Linked DNA regions of Homo sapiens. The protein of the gene in region 2 purifies or fractionates together with the protein of the main gene of each other region. This does not show direct contact. Each region holds a gene or a part of one and is shown on either strand. Other genes may lie near its edges. The genes, in order: SNW1, PRPF8, DHX9, TTC27, HNRNPU, DHX15 and SF3A1.

Region 1 (4,076 bases), on a different chromosome or scaffold from region 2:
TGTCAGGTCATTACTCTGCTCAAAACCCTGCAATTGCTTCCCTTTTCACTTGTAGTAAAAGCTTTATCTTTAGGTTAAAGGGCCATACATGATCTGGCCACTACTCTTCCCACCTGCCCTAACTATTCTGACACCTCATCTCCTACTTATCCCCTTCTTTCTCATACAAATCCAGTCATATTGGCCTGTCTGCTCTTCCTTGGGCCACACTAGGCATACTCCCATTTCAGAGCCATGTACTTGCTGGCCCTTCTGTGTGGGATGCTCTTCCCCCAGAAATCCACATGGTTTGCTTCCTTACTTTCTTCAAGTATTTCTGCTAACAGCACCATCTCAGAAGTGAGGGCTATTTGACCACTCTCACCTTCTGGCAATTTTATATCCTCTTTCCCTGTATTATTTTTCCTCCACAGCAATTATTACCTTTTACTATACTACATGATTAATTTCTGTCTGTCTACACTCACCAGAATGTTGACTGTTATATCCCATCCCCCTACCCACTGTCTAGCAAAAACACTTTGTGTCTAAAAGAGAACCTTGCACACAGCAGATGCTCAATATGAACTAAATAAATGAAAGAATGAATAAATGTACCAGGTAAGAATTTAGTAATGAAAAAAAAATAACCACCCTCACAAAATTTCTTGAATTATACTTAGGACTCGACTTCCCACTCTAATTGAATTAATACACCAATGTAGACCACTAAGTAAAGTCAGAGAGAAAATACTGGCAGATTTAATGATGAGAAATGCATTGGAGCCTACAAGATAGAAAAACTCTGGATTACTTCACCATATGAGGGAGCTGAATTATTCTGTTAGATACCTAATTTCTCTTAAGTTTTGAGATTAAGATAAGAGAAAATCAAGCCTATCATTTGAGTAATAATGCAATTTTGAAAAGTACACTGCTCAGAAGTTTAAAAATTTCTGGTACAGTCCCAAACTGAAGACCCACTTTTTTCTTATCTCCTGTTGCTTCAGCTTACTAAGGCAGAGATTACTCTCCATTTCTACACTATATCTGATGTATCTAAATTTTGTTTATATGTACCTACTTTATATGCAGTAGGAAAAAGATTTTCTAAAATAAGATATATTTTGTTCACCAAGCAAAATTCAATTCAGTAATGAGAATGTCATACCTTTTTCCACATGAGTTTTGATCCCAGCTCTTCTCTCCCTGGCTTTCTGGGCCATTTCTCTAAGTTTCTCTTCATGTTTTTCCTTTTCTTTCTGAGCCATTTTTCTCTCTACTTGGGCACGCATTTCCACAGCTTCACGAGCCTGTTGGTAAAGTCACATGTTAAACAGGACACTATCATGGGATAAATATTTATGGCTATCATCCAACTCCCTAACATCTGGCTGGTAAGAGCAATTATACAGAATTCAGATTTGTTATTGCTAATTAAAACAAAGAGTCTTGTCCACTAAAAGATATCCTGCCTGGAAGACACTGCAAGGTCAGCTTTTTTCTCTGGGAATATTTTAGTGATTGAAACTATCGTGACCCCAATTAATCTTGTAAGTCAAGTATTTCACTAATGCTTTCTCAGAAACAATCTAAAGAACAAAATTAAAGCCAGGCATAGTGGCTCTCTCCTGCAATCCTAGCACTTTGGGAGGCCAGGGTGGAAGGACTGCTTGAGCTCAGGAGCTTGGGACCAGCCTAGGCAACATAGTGAGATCCATCTCAAAAAAATAACATTTTCAAAATTAATAACACTTTCAAAGTTAATCAAGTCAACTCAAGATAAAATCTTAACTTACATCTGCTAGATAATTTTTATAAGGGTACTCACTGTGATACAAAAGACATTTTTTTTATGTTCCAAACACATGCTATGATGCATGTGAACTTCAATATCACATATTAATTCCATAATATTTATATTTACATATATTTTTTGAGATGAAGTGTCTTACTCTGCTGCCCAGGCTGAAGTGCAGTGGTGCGTTCTTGGCTCACTGCAACCTCCACCTCCTGGGTTCGAGAGATTCTCCTGCCTCAGCCTCCCAAGTAGCTAGGATTACAGGTGCATGCCACATCCAGCTAATGTTTGTATTTTTAGTAGAGATGGAGTTTCACCACATTGGTCAGGCTGGTCTTGAACTCTCAACCTCAAGGAATCCACCAGTCTTGGCCTCCCAAAATGCTGGGATTATACACATGAGCCATTGTGCCCAGCCTAATTCCATAATATTTAATACATTATGTAACATTAATAGATGGCCAATGCTATGAACGCCATTTTATGTACTATTCAATTCATTAGAATGTTTATCTGCCTTTTCCTGCAACTGCCCTTTTGGGGGACATCTACATCTAAAATAGAGGAAAATTTGAAATCAAAAATTATGAAACCTAGCAATCTTCAAAAAATGGGATCATCCTAGGAAACCATTATTCTGACATGTTGTGAGGGAGCCGGATCACCACTGTGGGGTGTATGTACACATCTACAAAAGCTGGGAGCATGCAGAGAGCTGCCAACTAGCAGCTGCCATTTCTGACACACGTACCATGGGTGAGACTCTCTTTGGGTGCTCGGTACTATAGTTAAATTATCAGTACCTTAGGTAACCAAGAATGGATTTTAAAAGTAACAAGAGCATTAAACAAATTATAACAAACCAACCTTCCGATCAGCAATGTAGAGGGCTTCTGCCAATTTGGCGAAATTTTCATTTATGTGTACTGTCTGTAGTCCTCTTCCATCAGCAGCCAGACGTTTGTCTAATGGAATTGTATAACCCTAGAGTGAAAGCAGACAGAAAACCCAGTCACAGAAGTGCTTCAATTAATCGTCTGAAGTTAAATTAATTTTATTTTTTTCGAGCTGGAGTCTTGCTCTGTCACCCTGGCTGGAGGGCAGGGGTGCCATCTCGGCTCACTGCAACCTCTGCCTCCTGGGTTCAAGCGAGTCTCCTACCTCAGCCTCCCGAGTAGCTGGGACCATAGGCGTGCGCCACACACTCGGCTAGTTTTTCTATTTTTAGTAGAGACGGAGTTTCACCATGTTGGCCAGGATGGTTTTGAATTCCTGACCTTGAGTGATCCGCCCTTGGCCTCCCAAAGTGCTGGGATTACAGGCATGAGCCATCGAGCCTGGCTAAAATTAAATTTAAATATGCCCACATTTTGAGAACCACTTAACTGGAGGTTCTTTTTCCTTGCATCTTTCTTCACAATGATGCAAAACAACAGCAGCTATCAATGAGTGCTTTATGTAGAAGATCAAGCACTTACACCTATGGTCTCATTTAACCTTCACGATAACTCTATAAAGCTTCTAACATTATTGTGTCCATTTCACTGATGCTTTGGTAACATCCCCAAGGTCATACAGTTAGTAAGTGGGCGATTAGGATTTAAACTCAGCAGGATTTCAGAACCCAAGCTCTGGAAAAATAGATATTTGTGTTAATAATTGTCGATTTTAATAAAAGGAAATCACTGTCAAACAGTTCAACAGTTGCTCCTCAAGTAAATTTAACAGTCAAACAAAGGTAGAATCACTATAATCTTAGCATCTATAGGAAGTTAAATCTGCTGTACTGTCTTAATGATCTGTTATATTCTTAGAATCCTGAAGTTTTAGTAAATAGAAAAAAAAGGCTGGGTGCAGTAGCTCAAGCCTGTAATCCCAACACTTTGGGAGGCCAAGGCAGGTGGATTGCTTGAGCCCAGGAGTTCAAGACCAGCCTGGCAACATGGTGAAACCCCGTCTCTACCAAAAATACAAAAAAGTAGCCAGGCATGGTGGGGCACACTTGTGGTCCCAACTACTCGGGAGGCTGAGGTGGGAGGATCGCCTGAGCCTGGGAGGTTGAGGCTGCAGTGAGCCATGATCATACCACTGTACTCCAGCCTGGGCAACAGAGCGAGACCGTCTCAAAAAAAAAAAAAAAAAAAAAAAAAACCAAAGAAAAAAGAAAAAAAAATGTTTGCTAAACAACTGAATTTCTACATTCTAAAACTTTGCATCCCATTTCAATAACTCAAGAACTGTACTTGAATGTCTATGTAACTTTCAGGCTTAGCTTTATTTTCCAGATATCTGACTA
Region 2 (4,076 bases):
GCCAGGCATGGTGGTGCGCGCCTGTAGTCCCAGCTACTTGGGAGGCTGAAGCAGGAGAATCACTTCAACCCGGGAGGCGGAGGCTGTGGTGAGCCAAGATCGTGCCATTGTACTCCAGCTGGGGCAACAGAGAAAGACTCAGTTTCAAAACAAAACAAAAAAAAAATTGCCAGGCGTGGTGGCGGGCACCTGTAATCCCAGCTACTCGGGAGGCTGAGGCAGGAGAATTGCTTGAACTCAGGAGGCGGAGGTTGCAGTGAGCCAAGATCGTGCCATTGCACACCAGCCCAAGAGACAAGAGTAAGACTCTGTCTCAAAAAAAAGAAAGTCAGTAAAGTCAAGGTCTCACCGTGTTGAAACGATAATAGATGAGATGCTTCAGGTCCTTGCACATGCGAATCTGTCGCATCAGCTTGTATTTGTATCGATACATGCCCGTCAACTGCCCAACATGGGCAAATATATACTGCAATCCATCTGCCAGCTGCAATACAATTGCCCCATCAGACCTGGAGCTTAAACCAGCTCCACGGTCAGCACAGGCTTCCTCCAGCGTCCTCACCCAGGCAGGGGTTGGGAATACCTAACCTTACCTGGAAGGCATCCACATTGCCCAGCCGATACTGCACGTGACTATCCACCACCAGCTTAGTCAAACGCAGAACTTCCCGACACAGGTGGAAAGCATTCCCAAAACGAGATTTCTTTCTTTCCTGGAGAAGATGCAAAAAACAGACAGAACGTGAATGAGCAATGGACCCAACTGATGTATGCCTTCATCAGTAACCAGAGGAAAACAACTGTCCGTCCTTGAAGCCCAGGAGGCCCCTAGGGTCCAATGCAGGCACCTTGGTGGTGAGCGTTTTCACAGGCTTGAGGTTGAAGTTGTAGTCCAGGTGCAGGTAGTTGAGGTTTTTGCGGTGAATGAGAAGGTTGAGCATGTTGTAGCCCTGGCGGCAAACCTGGAGCCCAACCTCCACCCAGTCCAGCTTTGTGGACTGAAAGAATTTGGTGGCTTTGAAGGAGCGGAACAAATACCTGAGGTGGGAACATGGAGAGTAAGAGTCAGCCTACTGATATCTCTGGAACAGAAGTCTGCGCAGGGCCCCTGGGGCACCTTACCTCTTCTTTTGAGCCTTAGGGGGCCGATGCTTCAGGGCATTCAGCACATAGTACTTAAGCAGCTTCTGGTAGGAGACCCTCACTTTCACAGGCTGCCCGGCAGGACAATGCTCCCGATACCTGGAAAAATAAGCCCACCAGAGTTTGGCCATCTCTTCTTCCAGACACTCTGCTAAAGGCTGCAAGCCTTGGGTTGTCTACCATTTTTATGGGAAAAAAAAAAAAAGAATTTAAAAAAAAGGCTACATGCCCACCTAGTTGGAGTCTTTTCTCCTACACATCCACTATCATTCCCCCTGCCACAGGGAAAAACCTTACCAGTTCTTGACAAGGGGTATGTCCAGGGCCCGACGGGTGCGACCAGAGCGTAGGTTGAAGGGCCGCGGGGCCCAGAGCAGGGCAATGCCATTGGCTGTATTGTCTGTATAGAGGGGTGTGTCCTTCAGGAAGGGCTCCACAAACTCCGGGAGCTCAAATTCCTCATCATCATCCGGCAATGGTTCCTGGCTCTGAAAAAGGAATCCCTCTAAGGGTTTAGCTCCTGCTGAACTAGGCACAGACTTAAGATGAGGGAAATTCTCTGGGGCCAAGCACAAAGCCTGTATCTGCTATGGAAACTGGGCTGTCTGACAAAAGCAGCCCTGAAGTGCCAGCACAAAGGAAACCAAGACAGCAAAGAACAAGACAGGGCCACCAGGAAAGCAAGCGTCACTTCTCACACCTCAACTGGCTGACCACCAGAAAGCCTCCCAATGGAGCCCCAACATCACAGGAGGTCAACATTGCAATCATCTCCCACCCAAGCTCCAAACACTGGGCTTGGACACAACGGAACACAGATGAGCATCAAAAACATTATGGTAAGCTTAAGAAGCCAGTCACTGAAGACTACATAGTGTACGATTCTATTTCATTCTATCATATGAAATGTGTAGAATAGCCAAATCTATAGACAGAAAGTAGATTAGTGGTTGCGTAAGGAAGTTGGGGAGAAATGGCGAGTAACTGCTAAGGGTTTCTTTCTCAAGTAATAAAAATATTCTCAAATTGCATGTCGTGACAGTTGGGACAACTCTGAGAATAAGCTAAAAACCATCAAATTACACACTTTAAATGGATAACTTGTATGGTATGTTAACTACATCTCAATATAAAGGCTAAAACAAACAAACACAATAGAGACAGACCGGGACAGATTATCTAGAGCACCCAAGAAAAGAACCGTAAAGTCCAAAAGGATAATCACAGAAAACAGGATTATACCAATGACATGTTTTAAAGCAAATGCTGAATTCTCATATTCGCTTATAGCTCAAGGGGAACACTTAGCAAGACGGAAAACACATCTCCCTCCACCTGAGCGTTTAGTAACATCAGCCAACCTCACGCATTTCTCCTAGAAGAGCTGAGGGAAAGCATCCCTTCCCTTCCTCACCTTGACTGAGTGCCTATGGGAGATTGGGTTGATCAAAGGGTCAAAGTAGAAAGCTGGCAAGTCAGGATCCTCAGTTTTGATGAATACAACATTGGGAGTATGGTACCTAAAATGAAAGGAAGAGTCAGCCAAAGTTTTCCCGCCCTGGCCCAACCTAAACAGCAGCCTTCTCCTTTCCAAATGTTGTGTTCCAGGTCTCTTACCAGGTGAGGTGGACATGGTGTGGAAGATTGTTGTACAAGTAAGGAAAAGCAATCTTGTACTCAGTGCGGATAGGCTGCCGGATGATAATCTTGTTAATATCATTGAATTCATTCCAGTCTTCATCCCTAGGGTACAACATCAAGAATAAGCAGACTTTTTTTTTTTTGAGACAGGGTCTCACTCTTATCACCCAAGCTGGAATGCAATGGCATGATCATCGTTCACTGCAGCCGTGACCTCCTGGGCTCAAACAATCCTCCCACAGCTCAGCTTCCCAAGTAACTGAGACTACACGAAGCTGTGAGTGTCACCACGCCCAGCTACATTTTTTGGTAAAGATAGGGTTTTGCCATTTTGCCCAGATTGGTCTCAAACTTCTGGGCTCAAGCAATCCTCCTGCCTCAGCTTCCCAAAGTGCTGAGATTACAGCGTGAGCCACTGCACCTGGTGTAAACAGACTAATTTGGAAGTTATATCAGGACTTTAAGGATCAAGATTACGTTTCATTCAACTCAAAATGTCTAAAATCCCTAATCTCTCCAACTCACTGTAGGTTGATGTCTCGAACAAGAGGTTCAAATTTGGGGCCTCCAGGAATGGCCATATTGAGTGCCTTGGACGTAAAGAAGGCCTTCAAATCAAACAGGTAGAAGTAGTTGTCATCCACCAAGTCTGTCAGGAGCTGATTAGCCAGGCGGTAGAGAGTCGACATCATAGGTAGTGTGAACTGCCAGCGCTGGTAAGTGGAGCCATTTACATACCTAGGTAAAAAATGAAAGGCCCACCTCAAGTAAGCAGCTAGACAAACCCATACCACCTACTGATCTCCCAGGACTCCTTCTGCATTTCCAGAACTCCTCCCAGGTGTAGTATCTCCATCTATCACTCACTTCCTGCTGTCCCTCAACGGCTGGTGGTCATAGAACCAGTCCAACACAGGGGCGTCCTCCTCAGGGTCCAGCTCTAGCTGAATGGCCTCCAGTGGCTCAACATCTAGGATGTTGTCAGCATAGTCCAAGGGCGGCTCCTCATCATCAAAAGGGGGAAAACGCATCCTCTTGAAATGCCTCCTATCTCTTTTTTCTCGGCGCATCATAATCCACATTGACCTGGAAGGCAAGACATCACACAACCATTTCTACCCACTGCCTCCCAACCACCACCACCACCACCACCCACCATATTTCAGCCTTTCTCACCCCCACTGGGAGATGTAGACAGGTTCAATGACCCAGGGAATCTCATTGACGAAGGAAATGGCTCCAGTGATGTGGTACAGCACAGGCACATCCCGAATCTGCTCCCAAGGCATAGG
Region 3 (4,076 bases), on a different chromosome or scaffold from region 2:
CATGAGATATTTGCAGTTTAATCCTAAAGTGGCGAAATACATTAAAAATAAGAGAGGGAGTATATGTAGAAAAAGACCATTATCTCTCAACTTCACACATGGCACATTATAGAATAAATTTAACTTCTTAAGCATTAATATTAAAAAAAAAAACTACTTATAATGGCCCCAAACTTAGGCAAACACAGATATGAAGAGTAGTTATAATCAGCACTAGCTTCTTAAAATTCACTGCTAGCTATGAGCAGGAGTCTTAAGCCAAAAAGTCTATCAAGCCAAATAAAATATAATAAAAATATATGCAATATATAATAAACAAAAAACAAAGTCCAGCAATATGGATCATTCAGACTTTCTTTTTTTTTGAGACAGAGTCTTGCTCTGTTGCCCTCGCTGGAGTGCAGTGGCGTGATAGCTCATTGCAACCTCCAACTCCCAGGTTCAAGTGATTCTCCTGCCTCAGCCTCCAGAATAGCTGGGACTACAGGTGTGCGCTACCACACGGGGCTAATTTTTTTGGATTTTTCGTAGAGACAGGTTTCACCATGTTGTCCAGGCTGATCTTGAACTTCCTGAGCCCAAGTGATGTGCCGCACCCAGCCAGATCATCCAGACTTTAAAATAATGAATTTAAGAGACCCAGAATACTGGCATTTTCTAGGTTTTCAAGAATATGATGGCTGAGCCTACTGGCTGTCCATTAAGCTCTATTCCATTTTTGCCCAGTGCTTACCACTAGTTTTGAATCAATATACAGAGTATGTGAAAGGGTACTCAAGCTTCACTTAGATTCTGATTCCATAGTGGTGGTGTGCCTAGTGGTAGACATGGCTCAAATTCCTAATGCATTTGCTTCTACTGGTATCAATTTAAGATTAAGTATATAGTATATAATTAAGTTAGATATAATTAGTATATAATTAAGTTAGATTAGCAGCTGAATTCCATCATATTGTAATTCTAAGAATTCAGTTTGGAGTTCACATCTGAAAATCCATACCAGTCATCTACAAGCACAATCTGCCCATCAGATTGGACTTTCTTGGAGGCAAAGAGAAGCAACTGCAGGGGGGTGACTAAAGTCATGCCTTTAGCAGAGATGGCTCGAGTTCGAATCTGCAAATGGAGAAAGAGACAATACAAAATGGTTGACATTCCAACTTCCAAATACCGCTATATACTGTGCTTTGAAAATCAAAATTCATGTTCCTAATGATTGTAAAGACAATTTCAACTTTCAATGTAAACTTTTCTAGTCTTTTCTTACCTTTTCACCAAATACAAAGAAGGGAGATGGGTACTTCATGTCTTGGCTACTAAAAGGACAATTAACAGATGATTTGTGGATAAGTGCATTACGCCCTTCAGTGGTGAGAATCTTCCTCTTTTCCTTATGATAGCATACATTGGGGTACACACCAAAGGCCAGGAGGGAGATAACAACATCCAAATTATTATCTGGTCCAGTGTTAGTAAACACTTGTGTCAACAAACAATCTGTTAAGAGGAGCACAGTGAAAACAAAAATCAGATAACTGGCTGATCTTCACATTACATGCAAACTATTTAAGATAATTCAGAGAACTGACTCTTCCTCACTCTTTTCACATAACCTGTCTGTAAAACTTTCTCTTCTCAGAATCCTTACACCCAGATTAAGTTCAAGGAGTAATGTTACTGAGTTTCCACAATAAGAAAACGAAAACGTCTCTATTCTCTTATAGACTCAACCATAAATAAGCTTGGGGTGATTACTTTTTTTTTTTTTTTTTGAGACGAGTCTCGCTCTGTCGCCCAGGCTGGAGTGCAGTGGCGCCATCTCTGCTCACTGCAAGCTCTGCCTCCCGGGTTCATGCCATTCTCCTGCCTCAGCCTCCCAAGTAGCTGGGACTACAGGCACCCGCCACCACGCCCGGCTAATTTTTTGTAGTTTTAGTAGAGACGGGTTTCACCGTGTTAGCCAGGATGGTCTCGATCTCCTGACCTCGTGATCCACCTGACTCGGCCTCCCAAAGCGCTGGGATTACAGGTGTGAGCCACTGCGCCCGGCCGGGGTGATTACTTTTTAAAGTCCCCCAATCAACCATCTACTCTGAGAATAAGAGCTTGACTGATAGGACCACAAAGTATTTATCTGCTACTCTTAAATAGCTGTTAGTTGTAGAGAAGATGGAGATAATCTAAGAGGACACCTACTGGAATGAAGGCTGACGTTTTTACCCAGTCTACACTTTGAGTACTTAGCTACTGACTGGAAAGCATGACAGTCAACCGCTGAAAGCACAGACATATTTTGTTCTAGACAAACGAGTTCTAGTCTTATAGCCTCCTAATTGGATGAATTAAAGACAATTTATACCTTGGTGCCTGTTTCATTACCTGTAAAATTCATCTCAAGATTCTAGCACATGAAGTTTTCCCTTTCTTATAATTTTGAGGAAAAACTAAAATTTCGGCTGGCTTATGACAGAAGAGAACCACTCACTACTTTGTTTAGTTATTCCAATTACAGCCTTTAAAAATTTACCATCTTGCCCAACTACCTTCTGTCTCTCAACAGTCTTATTTCTGGTTATGCATTCCAGTTCTCAATGTTTTAGGAAGTAATTCTATATTTTAACCTAGTTGGAAAAGAAAAGTACTACAGCTCATCAAGAAACATGGGTTGGTTTTTTTCTATGTTAGATGTCATAAAGTCCTTTAATCATCTGTACACCGAAAGTATAAATTAAAGTCATTTAAAATTTAATGTGGTAGAATTTACTTCAAGTCTAAATGCTAATAAATTACTTTGCAAACCACTATAAGGTTATCAGCAAAGTACTCATTCTGGGAACTAGACCAGTGTTCACGAGAACTAAGAAATAGTCGGGAATATATAAAAATCATAGGGTCTAAAATTTGAAACTAAAATACACTTTGCTGTCAATTTGCATGTACTATATAAATGTCACTTTAAAGATATCTTAAGAATGGAAGAAGTCTTACCTTCTGGAAACCCAGAATTAATCAAAATCTCTTTGAGCTGAACTTTGGCTTCCCAAGTCATTCTTAGTGTAGCCATATTAAGTCTTTTGTGCTCACAAAAACGTATCTCTGCTTCTTCTCCACCCATTCTAAAATAAATTGGCATGAGAAATCATTCTCTAAGACCAGAGAACTAAATACAAATGAGAAACTACAGACAGCTCACCCAAATCTTACTCATACCTAGCATCATCCCAGGCTTGGAATACTGATAAAAGGGCTACGTGATCAGAAAATCTGTTTCCAGCAAAATTTCGATGGATATAGCCCAGCCGCTTTCCTTCATTGATGAAAGGCTCTGGAAAGCAGGTAGCAGCAGCAATGGTACAGATAGCATCTCCCACGCTGAAATACACAAAGACAGTTAAATCCAGACTAGATCACAATGTTGTTGCCAGCAGCTCAGGTAGGACTGTCGACTGTGGGTTGCAGTCTTTATGGCTATGATTCTACTTTTATTTGCAATGAAACTGGCTTAACAAAGAACTTTATAGCTGCTCTCTTCAGAATCAGAAAGAAAAAAATGCTCTGATGCTCTAATGGCCACATATTTATCATAAATTATGACCAAGTATATTTTTCCTTTTATATTCTCTCTTCCCCATCATACCAAATCTCTTAATCTTCAACATTTTCTGATAAAATAAACCTCTTTTCCTGACACCGCTCTTTCAAGACCAACTATTAATAACAAGGGACCCTCCCACCCTGGCCTCCCAAAGTGCTAGGATTCAAGGTGTGAGCCACATTGCCTGGCCTGCTTGCTTTTAACTTTTGAGAAATCAGTGCCCTTTTCCCCATATTGGGCCCAGATATCCACCTACTGGAACTGTTCATTTTTTTAGTGTTACACTGCTCTCAATATCTAGGTATGTTACTTCCCTGAAGAACATTTAGGATTTTTTTTTTGTCTATCTGAGCCAATACTGCTTTTACAGGGAGGAGAAGATTCTGAAATTATTCTGCCACTTAACGAAGAGAAATAAAACAAAGCACTTACTAGAAAATACACCCCATTATCATCATTTTGCCAAAACGAGGCTCAATGG
Region 4 (4,076 bases), on a different chromosome or scaffold from region 2:
AGAATTTTATTTGAAATTTTCATAGAGGAACAGAGCAAATACATTTAATAGCACCTTGACAGGGTAAGGCCCTGATTTTAGCAGTTGAGAAACCTTGCCTTATATTTTACTCAAGACTCATGGTGTACCAAGTAATCTATGTAAAAACTCATCCAGAAGTCCATCCAGAATGAAGAAGTAAAGTGGTGCAGGATAAAATGGTTTCATATATGAGACTGGCACATATTTTGGTGTTAACTGCAAATGCTTAGGTCTGGTCGGCTTTACCCACCGGCAAAACTTCAGACCTTATTTCCTTTAACTTAAAAACATACTTTCAGGCTGGGTGCAGTGCTTCACGCCTGTAGTCCCAGTGCTTTCGGAGGCCGAGGCGGGCGGATCACATGAGGTCAGGAGTTTAAGACCAGCCTGGCAAACATGGTGAAACCCCGTCTATACAAAAATACAAAAATTAGCTGGGCATGGTGGCATGCGCCTGTAATCCCAGCTGCTAGGGAGGCTGAGGCCGAAGAATCGCTTGAACCTGGGAGGTGGAGGTTGTAGTGAGCCAATATCCCGCCATTGCACTCTAGCCTGGGCGACAGAGCGAGACTCTGTCTCAAAAAAAAACCAAAAAACAAAAAACATACTTTCAATCTTGTTATTTCTGCATAGCTGAGTGCTAATTTGTAACTATTTATTATGTTTTAGATTATTATCTTTATAGAGCTCAGAGAACTTAATGTTTTTGTAAGGAAGCCCTTGGTTTACCTTCTTCCATTAAAGTTTGTGTAATTTTATAGGGTTAAGTATAGCAGATAGTTACACAGCAGGGAAACCTAAGCTTTTCAGTGGCTTATATTTCATTGTTATAAATTTGATACCTCTATCTTTCGTCTACTATCTGTGGCAACCATGTCAAGCTTTAATTATCTTATAAATGCATGCAATTTTATTTTACCATTATTTCTAGGAAATAGCTTCATTTAGTCCTTCAACAAATAAACTATTGTAGTAGATGTGGAGGTTCTGAGGATGAATAAAGCATAACCCATATTCATAAGGAGTTTGCAAAAGAATGCTACTACAGGCTTTTAATTTTATTTTGAAAATTAATATTATTCATTTTCTTTTTTCTTTTTTTTTTTTGATGGAGTATCACTCTGTTGCCCAGGCTGGAGTGCAGAGGCGTGATCTCGGCTCACTGCAACCTCCGCCTCCCAAGTTCAAGTGATTCTCTTCCCTCAGGTTCCCATGTAGCTGGGATTACAGGCCTGTGCCACACCTGGCTCATTTTTTTTGTATGTTTAGTAGAGATGGGGTTTCACCATGTTGGCCAGGCTGGTCTTGAACTGCTGACCTCAGGTGATCTGCCCACCTCGGCCTCCCAAAGTGCTGGGATTACAGACGTGAGCCACTTCGCCCAGCCTCCATTTAATTTTTTTTAGTTTACTGGTAGTTATGTTCCTTTGGTATCATTCTTTTTTTTTTTTTTTTTTAGTTCCTTTTTGTAGAGATGGTGTCTTGATATGTTGCTCAGGCTGGTCTCGAACTCCTGGGCTCAAGCAATCCTCACCTCTGCCTCACTAAGTGTGGGGATTATAGGCATGAGTCACTCCGCCCGGCTGGATTCTCATTGCTTTCTTATATGTGTGCACTCTCATAGCAACTAGCCTTGTGGCACCCATTAAAACAACACATTCACACAAATGCATTATTCACTGATATACCAGATTTCTATCTTGTCACATAAAGCTAAAAAGAGACATTTCAGTTGACTCATTTTCAGACATTTGAAAGTTAAAGTGTATTTTCAGTTCACCTTATGGATTTTGTTTTTTGATTAGGACAGTTTATTAAGGCTGTTTTCTCCAAATTTCCAAACTTCTGATTGCATACCAGCTCTTTTGTTATCTTTTTTCTCTAATGCTGCTTATTTGCATTGCATCCAGAGTTTTATATTTTTGCTACCATAGGCTTGTATGTTTGATTTTTTTTTTTCTTTTTCTGAAAGACTCTTCCTTTTAAGGAAGGGCCTAGGGGCTGTGGGGAAAAAAGTGATTACTAATACTTTCTCTTCAGAATGAAACTCCAGGATTCCCTGGCTGTTATTTGCTAGAGTTGGATCTGTACCTATTTAGATCCTAATTTAGGGTTTGGCACATTATGGCTGGCAGGCTAACTAAGTGGCTAAGAATTAATGGGTTTTACATTTTTAAAGGGTTGGAAAAAAACAAACATGATATGCAAAGCCTAAAATATTTCATATTTAGAAAAAGTTTGCCTATCCCTGTCTCACATCACAGCAAGACTGAAAAATAGAGTTTTCACTAAAATATCTATATGTTTTGTTGTTGTTGTTGTTCTAGCATTTGGTGGTATGGGATTGGTAAACAATTAGCAACAACTTTATATCATCACTTTTCTTTTGTATAAAGTCAGTTTTCTATACATCTTGCAACATCAGAGCTGTTAAAGGGAGTGCAAGAAAAACTTATAGATGTCTGATCAGAACCTAAATCAACACCGTTCAAGATAATTTTCCGTGGAGATAGAAGTGCTCTCTATCTTCATTGCCCACATGGTAGCCACTAGCCACACTTAACTATTGAGCACTTGAAATATGGAAAGTATGACTAAGGAACTGAATTATAAATTTTATTAATTTTAACTAATGCAAATTTAAACCATGTTTGGCTCGTGGCTATAATATTGGATATTGTAGACCTAATTTCTTTTTTTTTTAAGAGAGACAGGGTCTCGCTTTATCATCTAGGCTGGAGTACAGTGCTATGATCAAAGCTTACTACAGCCTCAAACTCCTGGGCTGCAAGCAATCCTCATGCATCAGCCTCTTGAGTAGCTGGGATGTACCACCATGCCGGCTAACTTTTAATTTTTTTGTAGAGACAGGGTCTCACTATGTTTCTCAGGCTGGTTTTGAACTCCTGGGTTCAAATGATCCTCCTACCGTGGCCTTCCAAAGTGCTGGAATTACAGGCATGAACCACTGTGCCTAGCTAACCTAAATTGTTTTAAGTTTTAGAAATTTTTTTTTTTGGTAATACTCTAGGATAGTCTCAATAAATGTTGATAGATATTATTTTCTTAATAAAACTGAAATGGAATAGTGTGTTTGAGATTATACAGTGATAGTAGTTCATATTTATTTCTTTAACCATTCTTATATGCAGACAACAGTTGATATTTCTACTTGGTGTGAGCAGTTTGCAACTTTTTGTTCAGAGCAACTGGACGGGGCCCCCTGTTGACTTACACCCTCAGGACTTTTTGTCATCTGTTTTGTTCCAGCAATTCAGTGAGGTATGCTTCTTGAAAATGTTGTATGTAATTATTATTATGTTATTTATTTTTTATAAGCAGGTCTTTATAAACTGGAACTCATAGTAGGAAAGAAACATGACTTTATGGTTTGCACAAAAGTACTAAGAATGCTTGTTCATTGATCAGATTTTCACAGATTTCCAGAAGTTCCTTTGTCAAACTCCTCTTCATACACACTCCATTTTATGGAGCTGTGTTAGCTGTGTTTTTTAATGAAAGTACAGACAGCTGCACCAGTTGTTTAGTTGGTTGTATCACCTCAGTTACATAAAGATTTTTTTTTTTTGAGATGGTATCTCACTCAGTCATCCAGGCTGTTGTACAGTGGCTGGATTACAGCTCACTGCACCCTCAACCTACTCAGGCTCAGGCGATCTTCCCACCTCAGCCTCCCAAGTAGTTGGGACTACAGTTGCATGCCAACATGTCCAGCTAATTTTTTTGTAGAGATGGAGTTTTGCCATGTTGCCCAGGCTGGTCTGAAACTCCTGGGCTCAAGTGGTCTGCCTGCCTCAGCCTCCCAAAGTGCTAGGATTATAGGTGTGAGCGCTGTACATAAAGATCTTTAATGGCAAAGCAGCAAATCTGGAAATCTGTTTAATTTTATTTCAGGTAAGTTTTTAACTAATTAATTAATTAATTTTTTTTGAGACAGAGTCTTGCTCTGTCACCCAGGCTGGAGTACAATGGCGCGATCTCAGCTCACTGCAACCTCTGCCCCATGGGTTCAAGCAATTCTTCTGCTTCAGCCT
Region 5 (4,076 bases), on a different chromosome or scaffold from region 2:
ATTAAGTGAGCTATTTGGGCTAGTTAAATATTTACTAATGACTTCTCCCATTAGCACACAAGTATATTCCCTATTTTAAAAGATTGTAATATTACTTTTTCAATAACTGCTCTTTTGTTCTCAATTCCAGTTCAGTAGCTGCTGCTTTAAACATAAGTTGATTTCTTCCAAAGACCTGAGGCAGCAGCAGTGGGCTATCACTGGGCCACTAGCTTTCTTCAGCAGCGAATGGTATCAATGGCAGTGCAGCACTGTAAATACTGCTACTTTACCCAGTTGGGTTGCAATTGAGTGAGAAAGTATTGCAAACCTCTAAGTGGGCTTTGACTGTCAGACTTGTTTTTTTTTTTTTTTTTTTTGTTACAAAAAAACGTAGTTGGTTTAGTGATGAGAATGTACAACTCTGGGTGTGATAAATAGACCAAAGGATAAAAATAACTGTTTCAAAAGTATCAGCTATGGTGTCAGCCTGCTGTGTTAGATGGAAGGCATTGGAGCTTAGCTTCTCATGTTTTCTTGTACAAATTGGCTTTATTCAGATTTGTAAGAGTGTCAATGTAAAACTCTTTCTTACTGGAATATCCTTTACAGAAGGTTGAGATAGTCATCTGAGCCTTTTTAAAAGAAAAAACTGCAGGTGAAAAAGGAGTTAGTTGATGTGAAAGTTTTAGTGAAATTCTGGGTTGTATAAATAAGTTGCTAGGAATTGGCAAGGTAGTGAAGTGGTGACTCACACAGGTAATGTAATTGTTAGATTTTTTAGCAAATCAGGAATATGTCAATATAAGTACAATGTTGAATTCAAACAATCTGTTGAATTAAATTCTGTTGATTAGAATAACTCTAATTTAAGAAAAATTCCAAACTGTAGATTTATTTTTCTCTGATCAGTAAAAAGAAAATGAGTTCCAGCTTGACTTTAGCTGTTCAAGTGAGAAGTCTGAGGAAGTGCATGTTAATGAGCCAGTGACCCATAGGTAGCTGGGTTAAAGACACTTTGGATTTGGATAATCCGGGAAGCAATTAATCCCTAATTGTTGAACAGGCAGTCCTGGGTAAAGAGGACCTAAAATGCTGCACTATTAACAGCATTAGACGGCCAGGTTTGTACTTCATAGTTTTAGGCTGTCTTCTTCACAAGTTTTAGAAAAAGAATTTAGGAGCTAGAGCCCTGGTGCAGGATCAACAGCAGCTCATACTCCTATTTTAAAATAATTTGGTCGTGGCCTCCCTTCAGTTTTAATGTGGCACTGGTAAATCTACCTGGTTCTGGCATGCTTCACTTTGATTTCCTGCTATCCTCTACTGCTTGCCTCTAAATCAAGGTAAAGAGCAGAGCAGGTATGTATTAATGTCACATTGTCTTGATTATTTTAAATACTTAAAATATACATGTTAAACCTTGGTATTAGTTTCACAGGCAGTTTACTTTTCAGTACATAATTTAACAGGAGTGACTTGGTGGGAGTGGGGCTTTAAACTGAAAATTGGAACAACAGCATGATGTGGAGAAAAGTTGTGCAGCATTAAGAAGTACATGCAAAAATTAAGTAACCAAGTTTTGTCTACATAGCAGATATGTTTACATTGGATGTCAAAAGTAACACAGTATTTGATATAATTACAGATAATTGTGATCTACATTTTAAAATATCAAGAGATCGTCTCAGTGCTTCTTCCCTTACAATGGAGAGTTTTGCTTTTCTTTGGGCTGGAGGAAGAGCATCCTATGGTGTGTCAAAAGGCAAAGTGTGTTTTGAGATGAAGGTAAATGCAATTTTATGATTTGTTTGTTTGTTTGTGGAGACAGTCTCACTCTGTTCCCTAGGCTGGATTGCCGTGGTGCGACCTAGGCTCACTGCAACCTCCGCGTCCTGGGTTCAAGCGATTCTCCTTGCTTCAGTCTCTCAAGTAGCTCGGACTAGAGGCACACACTACCACACCTGGCTAATTTTTGTATTTTTAATAGAGATGGGGTTTCACCACGTAGGCCAGGCTGGTCGCCAACTCTTGACCTCAGGTGATCCACTGTCTCGGCGTCCCAAAGTGCTGGGATTACAGGCATGAGCCACTGTGCCCAGCCTTTTTTTTTCCTTTTTAAAATAGTGACAAGGTCTCACCATGTTGCCCAGGCTGGTCTTGAACTCCTAAGCTCAAGTGATCTGCCCGCCTGAGCCTCTCAGAATGCTGGAATTACAGGTGCTTCATACTGCTAAGTTATCAAAGGTACTTATTTTTGAAGCTTCCTGTAAATTAAAAGAGGAGCTTGGAACCTTCATTTTGTTGTGACAGTTAATCACGGTTGTTATGTTAGAACTTGCCATGCAGAGCTAGGCGATTTTTTATTTAGGGTACTTCATTTTTATCAAGCATTTGAAAGGGCCACCAAAGAGTTAAAAATAAAATTTGGTTACATTACTGCTTTTGTTGGTGAGAAAAACATTAATTGTATCCTTTAATTGGCTTTAAGTTAAAGACTGACAACATGAACTTTAAAAATATTAAGTATTCTTTTAAATATGGGTCAAATAAGTATTTAACTCTTTAAATTTCAAGTTATAAGCACATCAGTTTAAAGTTCTTACAAATATTGGGGGTGGGCTAGAGTGTGCCTTCTTTGTATTTATAGCTAGAGGAAGATTAGCCCGTGGCGCAATGAAATATGCGAGAGTTAAGGGGTTACCTCCTTGGTGTATTATTTTAATTATTTAATGATTTGACTTTCAGGTTACAGAGAAGATCCCAGTAAGGCATTTATATACAAAAGATATTGACATACATGAAGTTCGTATTGGCTGGTCACTAACTACAAGTGGAATGTTACTTGGTAAAGCTTCTTTTTGACTGATGTGGGCTCATGAATGTTCAGGAGGGTCTGATTTCAGTGTTTTTTAACTAGAGGGCATTCTAAGCCTTTTGTCTGTTTTTATCTATTCTGTTAATACTTCAGACAGGTAATATTAGCACATAGTAGGCACAGGCTACATTTTAGTTTTTGTTCCTTTATTAGAAGTTTATGACCAATGGTTGAAATAAAATCTTACCCGTGATATGCAAATCGTCAACTAATTTGGTCTCTGCGTATATATCCCTCCTAACTTCCATCAATTCTGGTACAGAGATAGAAAAGTAATAGTGTCAGTGACAGGTGATTAGGTTATATGCTTATTTCTCTTGTAGCCTACATCTTAAGTAGTAAAATAGATGAGTCTTTGGACTATTTTAAACATCTACTTCATGAAGATTAATTATTTTCTTAGGTGAAGAAGAATTTTCTTATGGGTATTCTCTAAAAGGAATAAAAACATGCAACTGTGAGACTGAAGATTATGGAGAAAAGTTTGATGAAAATGATGTGATTACATGTTTTGCTGTAAGTTAAAGCTAACTTTCTATGTATAAATGGCAAAGTTAGTAGCTATATCTAGGAACTTTAAAGAAGCTTTACTGAGGTCAGTTTTCAATATGAGCAACAAAATACACCAGTCCCTGGATTAGTGTAAAGACTTCATTCAGCAGTTGAATTGGGAAAACACAGGACATTTTTGAGGAACTCACTAATTCATTTTGACTGAAAACAGTGAACATGAAATTGACCTAGAAAATTCAGTCTAGCTTCTAGGTCAGTATTGTTTCTGGTTCTGGAGATACGTGCTTCATGGTTTACAACCATCAGATTTCTTAACTGTGTAGCCCTTAAAGGCCACCTAATAGTTCTTTAACCTGTAGCTTCCACAGGATAAGCTTTGCTCCTAATTTTAATTCTTAGTTTTTTAGAAAGTTTAAGGAAGCAGATTTTAACTGTTGAATTTTTTTCTGTGTAACAGAACTTTGAAAGTGATGAAGTAGAACTCTCGTATGCTAAGAATGGACAAGATCTTGGCGTTGCCTTCAAAATCAGTAAGGAAGTTCTTGCTGGACGGCCACTGTTCCCGCATGTTCTCTGCCACAACTGTGCAGTTGAATTTAATTTTGGTCAGAAGGAAAAGCCATATTTTCCAATACCTGAAGAGTATACTTTCATCCAGAACGTCCCCTTAGAGGATCGAGTTAGAGGACCAAAGGGGCCTGAAGAG
Region 6 (4,076 bases), on a different chromosome or scaffold from region 2:
ACTGAAATGTACTGGGAAGACATGATATGACCAATTATGGAACATAATGATCACATGGTTTCACATGAATGCCAAGGCAAAATTCGTCATTTTCAATTTCTTAAACCTTTTAAAAACATACAAATATTCAACACGCAAAATCTAATAAACCATTTTAAGTTGCTTCATGTCACACCACTAAAATGTTACCACATGCAAATAAACATTTTTTGTTAAGCCTTAACAATTCCTTACTTAATAAGCTAACAACAGGCTCTTGGTTCAAAAGGGCTGAAAGCGTGAGTCCTCCCACCCCAAAGAAATAATCTTAAAGCACAAAAGGAATTCAATAATAAAAGAAGTGGGACTGAGGGGCAGCATCAACACTAAACAAATGCTGATACATAAATGGAAGATAAAAACAAATGACGTCAGATTGATCAATGAACCAAAAAGGGAAACCAGGCTTAGTTAGGGATGGCTCAAGTGAAGGCTGCTAATATGGACTCCAGTTATCACAAGACAGGCGCCACGTAAGAATGAAGGCAATGAGATCAAGGGTCAAGATTGTATAACTTTGCAGGGGTCAGCTATCTCCTGTCCATTCCACACTGGTTACTGATGTCACTATGAAAAACAACTATCTTCCTTTTGGCACCTGGACAAAACACAGGATGCCTTTAGATGCTTAAGTCACAGCTCATCCAGTTAGATAAAAACCCATTATTTTATTTACGGATTTAAAAGTGGTATTAAAAAATCTGAAGCCATCATTTATGAATTCACCATTTTGGCTCTTTTTATGATTAGTCTAACCTAATCTTTCATGGACCAACTGGATATTTTTAGCTCATGCCATCTGCTGGAGCATTAAGTTCAGCAAATTGATAGTGTACAACAAAAAGAAGTGAATTCTCTTTATTTCACCTAAACTTAATTCTAAATTTCATAAACTATTGGCAAACAAATCCATCTTAACTCATTTATATGCTTTATGCTTCTTGTCCTTGGTCATATTTTTAAAAATAAACTACCACATTCCTGGGAGGGACAAACAGCATTAGCTATAAGGTTATTTTATGTAAGACCAGGAAAGAAAAAACACTGCCAATTAAATTATGACTCAGTGCCTTAAAGACAGTAAAGCATAGTGCAAGAATCAGCAACACTATAGCCCTTAGCTGCTTTGAAATTTCTTTGATCTGAGGACGTTTGGTAATTTTTCCTGTCTTCCGATATATCACAGACACGAGAGAGGCAATACTCTTGTACATGATCTCAGTAGCAGAACATAACATACAGCTTCCTCTATTTGTGAGTTACCTCTCTTAGCTTCAATAGAGCGGTCTGTTGATTTGCAAGGCAAAAAAAAAAAAAAAGGATTGGTTACTCTTCCAACATTTGCTCAAATACTAGCATATTTACACCCTATTGCTCCATTTCCCAGCCTCTTGATACTCAGTGCTCATTTCAACATGGAATCATAGTGTAATATTTAATATTTCTGAAGGCATTTAAATTAGCAAATACTCTCAGTATATACAGACCCAACAATTCACATTATTTGAGGTGAAAATATGTACAGCTAGATCGAGTTCAAGCATTCACAGGCAATAATAACCAAACTGCCACCAACTACAAGACCTCAGTAGATTGTGAGACACATTGTAACTTCAGACAATAAAAACTTGAGAAAAAAGTCACAGAAATGATAAAATATGACTTTAAGTTGAAAACTTCTTAAAACTAGTTTTAAAAGTCACCTTCTTTATTTTGATCTTTTTTCTCCTCACATTCCTCAAGCTTTAATCAATCACAATATGGAGCAGAGCTAACCAACAGACATTCCTTTTTATTTTTCTAAGGGAAGAAATGTTACAGATGGCAGACTATAAATATTATAAATTAGATTAATGGAAATATTTTATTGTGCTTTATTAACTATGCATATTGCAAGTACTTAGTTAAATGGCCAAAACTTCTATCATCCAGACAATTCCCAATGGTTCCTCAATACTGATCATCACCCAGTGATCCCATTCCATGAGGTGCTGCACTTAATTACTTCTTGCATCACCAGTTAATATGGGATACTGCTGTTTGTACAATGAATAATTTCAAGAAAAATGAAATTTCAAAATTTCAAAGGTCTCAAGGATATAGTCAAATTTACTTCTTTTCCAGTGAAGAAAACGAAAAAAACCGTAGTCAACTTTTCCAGACTCTCAAAACCAGTTACTAAGACTAGGTATCACTGTACTGATTCCCAGTCCTAAGTCTCTCCTACATTAACACACTCTTCACAAAGTCCCAGATAAAGGAACCCATTGTACGTACAAATTTCATAGCAAAAAGCTATTCGAAAGATATGCCCAGGTCCTAACCTCTGGTACCTATCAACGTGACATTACTCAGAAATAGGGTCTTTGCAGAAGTAATTAAGTTATAAATTTCAGACAAGATCGCCCTGAATTTAAGAGTGGGCCCTAAATCCAATGACCAGTATCCTTACAAAATGTAAAGAGAGGGAGATTTGAACACAAAAGGAAAGCCACGTGAAGATGAAGGCAGAGACTGTGGTTACAAAGCTACAAGCCAAGGAATGCTAAGGACTGTTAGCCACCACCAAAAGCTAGGAGAGAATCATGAAAGACTATTGCCACTTAGAGCCTCCAGTTGGAACTAACCTGCCAACATACTGTTTTTGAACTTCTGACCTTCAGAATTGTGAGAGAATGAATTTGTCAATTTTAAGCCACTAAAAAAAAAAAAAAAAAAAAAGAAACAGTACTTGACGATTTGCTATACTGTTAAATGTATGAAACCCTTTGCTTAACAACAAAAAACTAACTTGACACAGAACTCAGGAAAGGCAGAATCAGGCACTGGAGATAAAAACTACAGTCCATTTTCCTTTATGTAAGAGTCAAGTTTTACTAACTTTCTTAGTAGTAATGAAATATTTATCCAGGCTAAGGAATGAGTCACAATAGTAAAATTTTAAGTTTGAAGTTTCAATGATGAATTAATAAAAGTGCCACAGGATAGCCAAACTCCACACTTTACTGGGTGCCTTACTATCTACAGTGTTTTCCAACTGTTTTAGGGCAGAGATGCTCTTAAAAATTTATTAGCATCACCTTGGAACTAGTAAGAACTACAAAACTTGAGTCTCATCTCAGATCTACTTAATCAGAAATTTTGAAGGTGAGGCATAGCAATCTGCTCTAACAAGTTTTCAAGTGATTCTGATGATTGCTAAAGTTTAAGAAACACTAGTCTAAATTAATCAAATTAAACAAGAAGCAGATTACCTAAAGATGTCTAAAGTAGCAAAAACATCCTTGGAGTAAGTAACAGTTCAGCTTTTCAACTGTGACTGCTTAATAAAATATACCAAAAACCCCATGTACTGAACAGTATCAACCTAGCTTAAGTATTTTTTTGCAACAGGCACATGTAGATGGCGTAGTATAACTACAAGCCAACTGCCAACTATGATCTCAGCAAGATGACGACACCTAACACATCACTAATTCTGATTTGAACAAACCATGGTAAAACATTACATCCTGCAAATATATTACTTATTTATATTTTTGTATTTATATATATGTATATATATTTTATGAAACATTCCAAAAAATTACAAACTAAGCCTAAGAAAGGCAAAAAATCATTTTTATAAAATGAAAACCAGAAATCCCTACCTCAAAGCTTATGATCCCTCCCCAGTAAAATTCCAGCTTGGTTAAATGTTTAAAACAAAAACAAAATAGTAAAATACATGGATTAAATTATTTAAACCAACACTGGGCAGGGTATGATGCAAAACCTGGACATCATAAAAGTGGTTAATTCAATACGTGTACAAAATTCAAGTCTCTATGTAGCATGAAGTGTCATAAAGCAAAGAAATGTATGACAAACTGAGCAAAAATTGCAACTTATATCCAAGGTGCTAATTCTGTTATAAGCTCCTACAAATCTATAAGAAAAAGGCCAATCCACTATAGAAATATGGGCAAAGCATATGATGAAACATCTAATTCTATCAATTTTATAATACCGCATATTTGGTCAAATTTAAATTCTCT
Region 7 (4,076 bases), on a different chromosome or scaffold from region 2:
GGGGTGGTTTTAGGGAGTACTTGGACAAGGCGTTAAACCAACTATTTGTTTTTTGTTTGTTTGTTTGTTTCTTAAAGACAGGGTCTTGCTCTGTTTTCCAGGCTGGAATACGGTGACACGATTCTAGCCCACTGCAGCCTCAGACTCCTGGGCACAAGTGATCCTCCCACCTCAGCCTCCTGAGTAGCTGGGACTAGAGGCACACACCACCATGCCCAGTTAATTTATTTTTATATTTTTTTGTAGAGTTAGGGTCTTTTCTTGTTGCCCAGGCTCAAATCAACTAAATTTTCATGTCTTTCAGTCTTTCTTGTTACTCAGAGGACAAAGTCTAGGTTTGGTGCTCATGTACCTTTTACACCTCTCCAGCACTTGCTACCCCTTTGAACTAAGAGAATTAGTCTCAGCAAACTTCCAGCTAAACTTTGACAGTATTACTTTGTTTTCATTATGTTCACTTTTGACTACCTTTTGTTGGTAAAGGCATACTGATTTTTTTTTATTTGAAGTAGTAATATGTATTCTCCATCTTAAATAGATTTTTTTTAAAGTAAATTTTATTAAAAGAAATGAGCGATAGCCTAGATGGTTTTGGAAATGGCAGAACTGGAAAAGGAGCTAAGGAATGACTGGGTTCAGGGAAACCCTGTGGCAGAGGTGGCCTGGTTCAAGCTGAATGAGGCAGATGGCACTGATCGCCAATGCCAGGAAGCTAGAGGAGGACGTCTGCTGAGGGATGGGCTGGTTTGAGCAGTGGGTGGTGGCAAGAAGGACGTTCCAATGGGCAGTGTTCTAGATCACAGCAGGCACAAGGGAGTGGTGTTTATTCTTGTTGTTTTTTCTTCCTCCAGAAACGGGCCTGAATTTGAAGCTAGGATCCGACAGAACGAGATCAACAACCCCAAGTTCAACTTTCTGAACCCCAATGACCCTTACCATGCCTACTACCGCCACAAGGTCAGCGAGTTCAAGGAAGGGAAGGCTCAGGAGCCGTCCGCCGCCATCCCCAAGGTCATGCAGCAGCAGCAGCAGACCACCCAGCAGCAGCTGCCCCAGAAGGTTTGGAGCCCAGTGCCCCCTTCACTTACGCAGGGCTTGAGAGGGAAACAGGGATAGGGAGGGAGTACACAATTAACTCCAAATCTCACAACCACCCAGGGAGAGAAGTGAGGTCGTTATCCCCATCTCTCAGAGGCAGACCGAGGCCCAGACAGCAAAGTACTGATGTTAGTTGGCATTTCCCGAGCACTGCTTGTCAAGCTCTGTGCTTGGTACTTCAGGAGTCTTGTCTCATTGACTCCTCACAGAGGCTGTATGAGGAACCTGAGAGTTGGGGGACGTGTGATTTATTCAAGGCCTTGCTCAGGGTGTGAGGGCAGTGCCGTGATGTGAGGGCAGCACTTCCTACTTGGCTGTGCTGAAGGATGCAGTGTGGCCTGTGGGCTCCTCCTTGTGCCATCCCTTCCCTTCTATCTCTTCTTCCCAGGACCCCTCCATCCTGGCCTCCCCTGATACCACCTTCCCTGTGCTGAGGCCCAGCACTAGGGACTATTAGGATTATGAATGAAGAGAGAGGCTGACATGTTTTTCCTCCTGTCCAGACCTGCCTTCTGCACTCCTGAACCATGGTGGAAAAGGCAGTCCCTCCTTTTGCAGTGGGCTATAAAGGTTGAAGTCAGGTTCTAAGACCTTGCGTTGCAATGAGGCCTAGGACCTCAGGCTACCTCAGTTTCTTCATCTGTAAAGAGGATTCACAGTACCTGTGCTACCTCATCGTTCATGCGGAGGTCATGGAAACACTTTGTACAGTGGGGTTTTCTGCACACATGTAGGCCTTCTGCACATCCATCCCTCTTGGATGGGATTTAATAAGTCCTATTCTTGTTGGATCTTCTGTCACCCAGTTTTGGCCCTCAATTTCAAGGCAGGAGCAGAGATACAGAGGGGAATGGTTCTCACTCAGCCATTCAGGAAGTTGAGGCCATAGTTGGCTGGGAAGTCAATGCTCTTGTGATTTAGAATTCTCTCACACCAAGTGCTAGTGGTGTGTGCATAATTAACAGAAGTCTAGAGGTTCACAGCATCCTGCTGAGGGGTGCATGCCCATGTCCCCTCCCCTCCCCTCCCCTGGAGCCTGTTCACCCCTGTGCCTCTCGCCTCATACTCCCTTTGCATCTTAGGTCCAAGCCCAAGTAATCCAAGAGACCATCGTGCCCAAAGAGCCTCCTCCTGAGTTTGAGTTCATTGCTGATCCTCCCTCTATCTCAGCCTTCGACTTGGATGTGGTGAAGCTGACGGCTCAGTTTGTGGCCAGGAATGGGCGCCAGTTTCTGACCCAGCTGATGCAGAAAGAGCAGCGCAACTACCAGTTTGACTTTCTCCGCCCACAGCACAGCCTCTTCAACTACTTCACGAAGCTAGTGGAACAGTACACCAAGGTGCCTGGGCAGGATGGGGCTGGGGTCCTGGGCCCAGGAAAGGAAAACATCTTATGCTTGGAAGCACTGTGTCCACTCACTGTCTACAAGGACATCGCTTCTCCATGGGGCCTCTGAGCAAATGTTTTGAATCCCAGTTTAATGTAAAACCTTGATTTCTATTCAGTTATTTCTTTAAGTGCAACACAGACTGCCGGTTTCTAAAGAGAAGGGAAATACATGCTTGCTAACTACCATTAGGCGATTGCCTGCTATGTGACAAGGCCACGTGGTGCTTGCTGCTTTTAAGTGCATTTCCGTTTTCAGTTGCCTAGTAAGGCCCTGAGAAGAAGCCAACCTTTAAGAGTTGCCTCCTTTTACCTAACTTAGTCCTCACAAGAAGCCATGAGGTGTTTTCCCCCCATGTTTGAGAAGCAGAAACAGGCTCAGAAAGGTGAAGTCACGTACTCAAGGTCTGTCAGCTAGTAAGTACTATGCTGAGATTTAAACCACATTTGACCCTAAAACTTTGGTTCTTCAGCTTATAAAGTGCCTTAAATTGGAAACAGCATTTAAATAGGTGTTGAGAGACACTTTGATGTCATGTAAGTCAGTATAACTAACATCACTAAGAAATTATGTATGCAGCATCTTCTCATTTAATCTCCGGTAGCCTATAAGGTAGCCACTATTGCTATGTTCACTTTACAGAAGAGAAAATTGAGGTGCAGTGAAGTTAGCATGGCCAGGGTCACATAGCTAGGAGGTGGCAGGGCTGGGGCTTGAGCTCTGGCATTTTTACTCCAGACCCTAAGAACTCAATTATCATTTGACAGAGCTGCAATCAAGAATCAGGACAAGTCAGTTCTGGCATTTAAAATAATCAGATTATTAATTTATTGCAAAGTGCACTGACAGCTTTGCCTGTGGCACATTTTTCTTGCTACACATGTCATGGAGGTTGTTTTCCTTCCCTTTACAGTGGGATGGTCTGTACATCTCTTCTTCATATCCAGAAACAACACCTCAAAGATCTGACTTGAAAGGACTTGAGAATTTCCTAACTCTACTCACTTTTAAGTACATAATTAGAATTTTAACAATGTGTGTGTTTAGAAAATGACCAAATCCAGAAGCTAGTATGGTAGCTAAAATAACAGTCATTCAAGGCCCAAGGCCCAAGGGTTTCTATAAATATGCAATATCAATTTTAAATGAACCCTGGATTAATTTCTCCCAGTGGACTGCTTCCAGGGTTAAAGGTCCCAGATCACTTTTTATTCTGTTACTTTCCTGTTTTTTCTTCAGAACTTGGGTATTGGCATTTACCACTGTAACTTGAGGTTCCTGCTGTCTGTTCTAGCCATGGAAGACTGAGCAGATAGATTCTTGGGGTAGAGGTGGAAGGAGGATTGGGATAGGGCCGAGCCACTTTGCCAGTGGCAGTAGAAGCTGTTGGGGCTGTTTAGAACAAAGGCAGCATTTGTTCTCTCAGTAAGTATACATTGTCAGACATTATTCAGGGGGCTGGAGATGTAATCGTGAACAAAAGAGAAATCCCTGTCTTCATGGAGTTTCTAGTCTAGTGAGGAGGAGTCAAGTGCATTGTCAGTGTCTGTTACATGGTGCTAAATACTACAGAGAGAAAGCAGGGAGCAG

What was found.
Region 1: the proteins of PRPF8 (region 2) and SNW1 purify together in Homo sapiens (affinity purification with mass spectrometry; 5 studies listed by BioGRID and IntAct, with this or other methods). This does not show direct contact.
Region 3: the proteins of PRPF8 (region 2) and DHX9 fractionate together in Homo sapiens (co-fractionation; 3 studies listed by BioGRID, with this or other methods). This does not show direct contact.
Region 4: the proteins of PRPF8 (region 2) and TTC27 purify together in Homo sapiens (affinity purification with mass spectrometry; 3 studies listed by BioGRID and IntAct, with this or other methods). This does not show direct contact.
Region 5: the proteins of PRPF8 (region 2) and HNRNPU fractionate together in Homo sapiens (co-fractionation; 3 studies listed by BioGRID, with this or other methods). This does not show direct contact.
Region 6: the proteins of PRPF8 (region 2) and DHX15 fractionate together in Homo sapiens (co-fractionation; 3 studies listed by BioGRID, with this or other methods). This does not show direct contact.
Region 7: the proteins of PRPF8 (region 2) and SF3A1 purify together in Homo sapiens (affinity purification with mass spectrometry; 4 studies listed by BioGRID and IntAct, with this or other methods). This does not show direct contact.

What each region holds. Positions count from the first base shown.
Region 1 is NC_000014.9:77,729,838-77,733,913, forward strand, and holds part of SNW1 (SNW domain-containing protein 1), read right to left. Parts: intron 2,765-4,076; coding exon 2,648-2,764; intron 1,293-2,647; coding exon 1,151-1,292; intron 1-1,150. UniProt on the Homo sapiens protein: Involved in pre-mRNA splicing as component of the spliceosome. As a component of the minor spliceosome, involved in the splicing of U12-type introns in pre-mRNAs.
Region 2 is NC_000017.11:1,678,169-1,682,244, forward strand, and holds part of PRPF8 (pre-mRNA-processing-splicing factor 8), read right to left. Parts: coding exon 3,961-4,076; intron 3,871-3,960; coding exon 3,652-3,870; intron 3,523-3,651; coding exon 3,310-3,522; intron 2,887-3,309; coding exon 2,761-2,886; intron 2,664-2,760; coding exon 2,558-2,663; intron 1,632-2,557; coding exon 1,441-1,631; intron 1,243-1,440; coding exon 1,123-1,242; intron 1,039-1,122; coding exon 849-1,038; intron 714-848; coding exon 594-713; intron 485-593; coding exon 350-484; intron 1-349. UniProt on the Homo sapiens protein: Plays a role in pre-mRNA splicing as core component of precatalytic, catalytic and postcatalytic spliceosomal complexes, both of the predominant U2-type spliceosome and the minor U12-type spliceosome.
Region 3 is NC_000001.11:182,880,560-182,884,635, reverse strand, and holds part of DHX9 (ATP-dependent RNA helicase A), read right to left. Parts: coding exon 4,028-4,076; intron 3,373-4,027; coding exon 3,211-3,372; intron 3,117-3,210; coding exon 2,989-3,116; intron 1,498-2,988; coding exon 1,268-1,497; intron 1,117-1,267; coding exon 1,001-1,116; intron 24-1,000; coding exon 1-23. UniProt on the Homo sapiens protein: Multifunctional ATP-dependent nucleic acid helicase that unwinds DNA and RNA in a 3' to 5' direction and that plays important roles in many processes, such as DNA replication, transcriptional activation, post-transcriptional RNA regulation, mRNA translation and RNA-mediated gene silencing.
Region 4 is NC_000002.12:32,630,703-32,634,778, forward strand, and holds part of TTC27 (tetratricopeptide repeat protein 27), read left to right. Parts: intron 1-3,173; coding exon 3,174-3,303; intron 3,304-4,076.
Region 5 is NC_000001.11:244,858,026-244,862,101, reverse strand, and holds part of HNRNPU (heterogeneous nuclear ribonucleoprotein U), read left to right. Parts: intron 1-1,627; coding exon 1,628-1,767; intron 1,768-2,727; coding exon 2,728-2,827; intron 2,828-3,260; coding exon 3,261-3,373; intron 3,374-3,827; coding exon 3,828-4,076. UniProt on the Homo sapiens protein: DNA- and RNA-binding protein involved in several cellular processes such as nuclear chromatin organization, telomere-length regulation, transcription, mRNA alternative splicing and stability, Xist-mediated transcriptional silencing and mitotic cell progression.
Region 6 is NC_000004.12:24,556,637-24,560,712, forward strand, and holds part of DHX15 (ATP-dependent RNA helicase DHX15), read right to left. Parts: intron 1-4,076.
Region 7 is NC_000022.11:30,343,295-30,347,370, reverse strand, and holds part of SF3A1 (splicing factor 3A subunit 1), read left to right. Parts: intron 1-851; coding exon 852-1,059; intron 1,060-2,180; coding exon 2,181-2,438; intron 2,439-4,076. UniProt on the Homo sapiens protein: Component of the 17S U2 SnRNP complex of the spliceosome, a large ribonucleoprotein complex that removes introns from transcribed pre-mRNAs.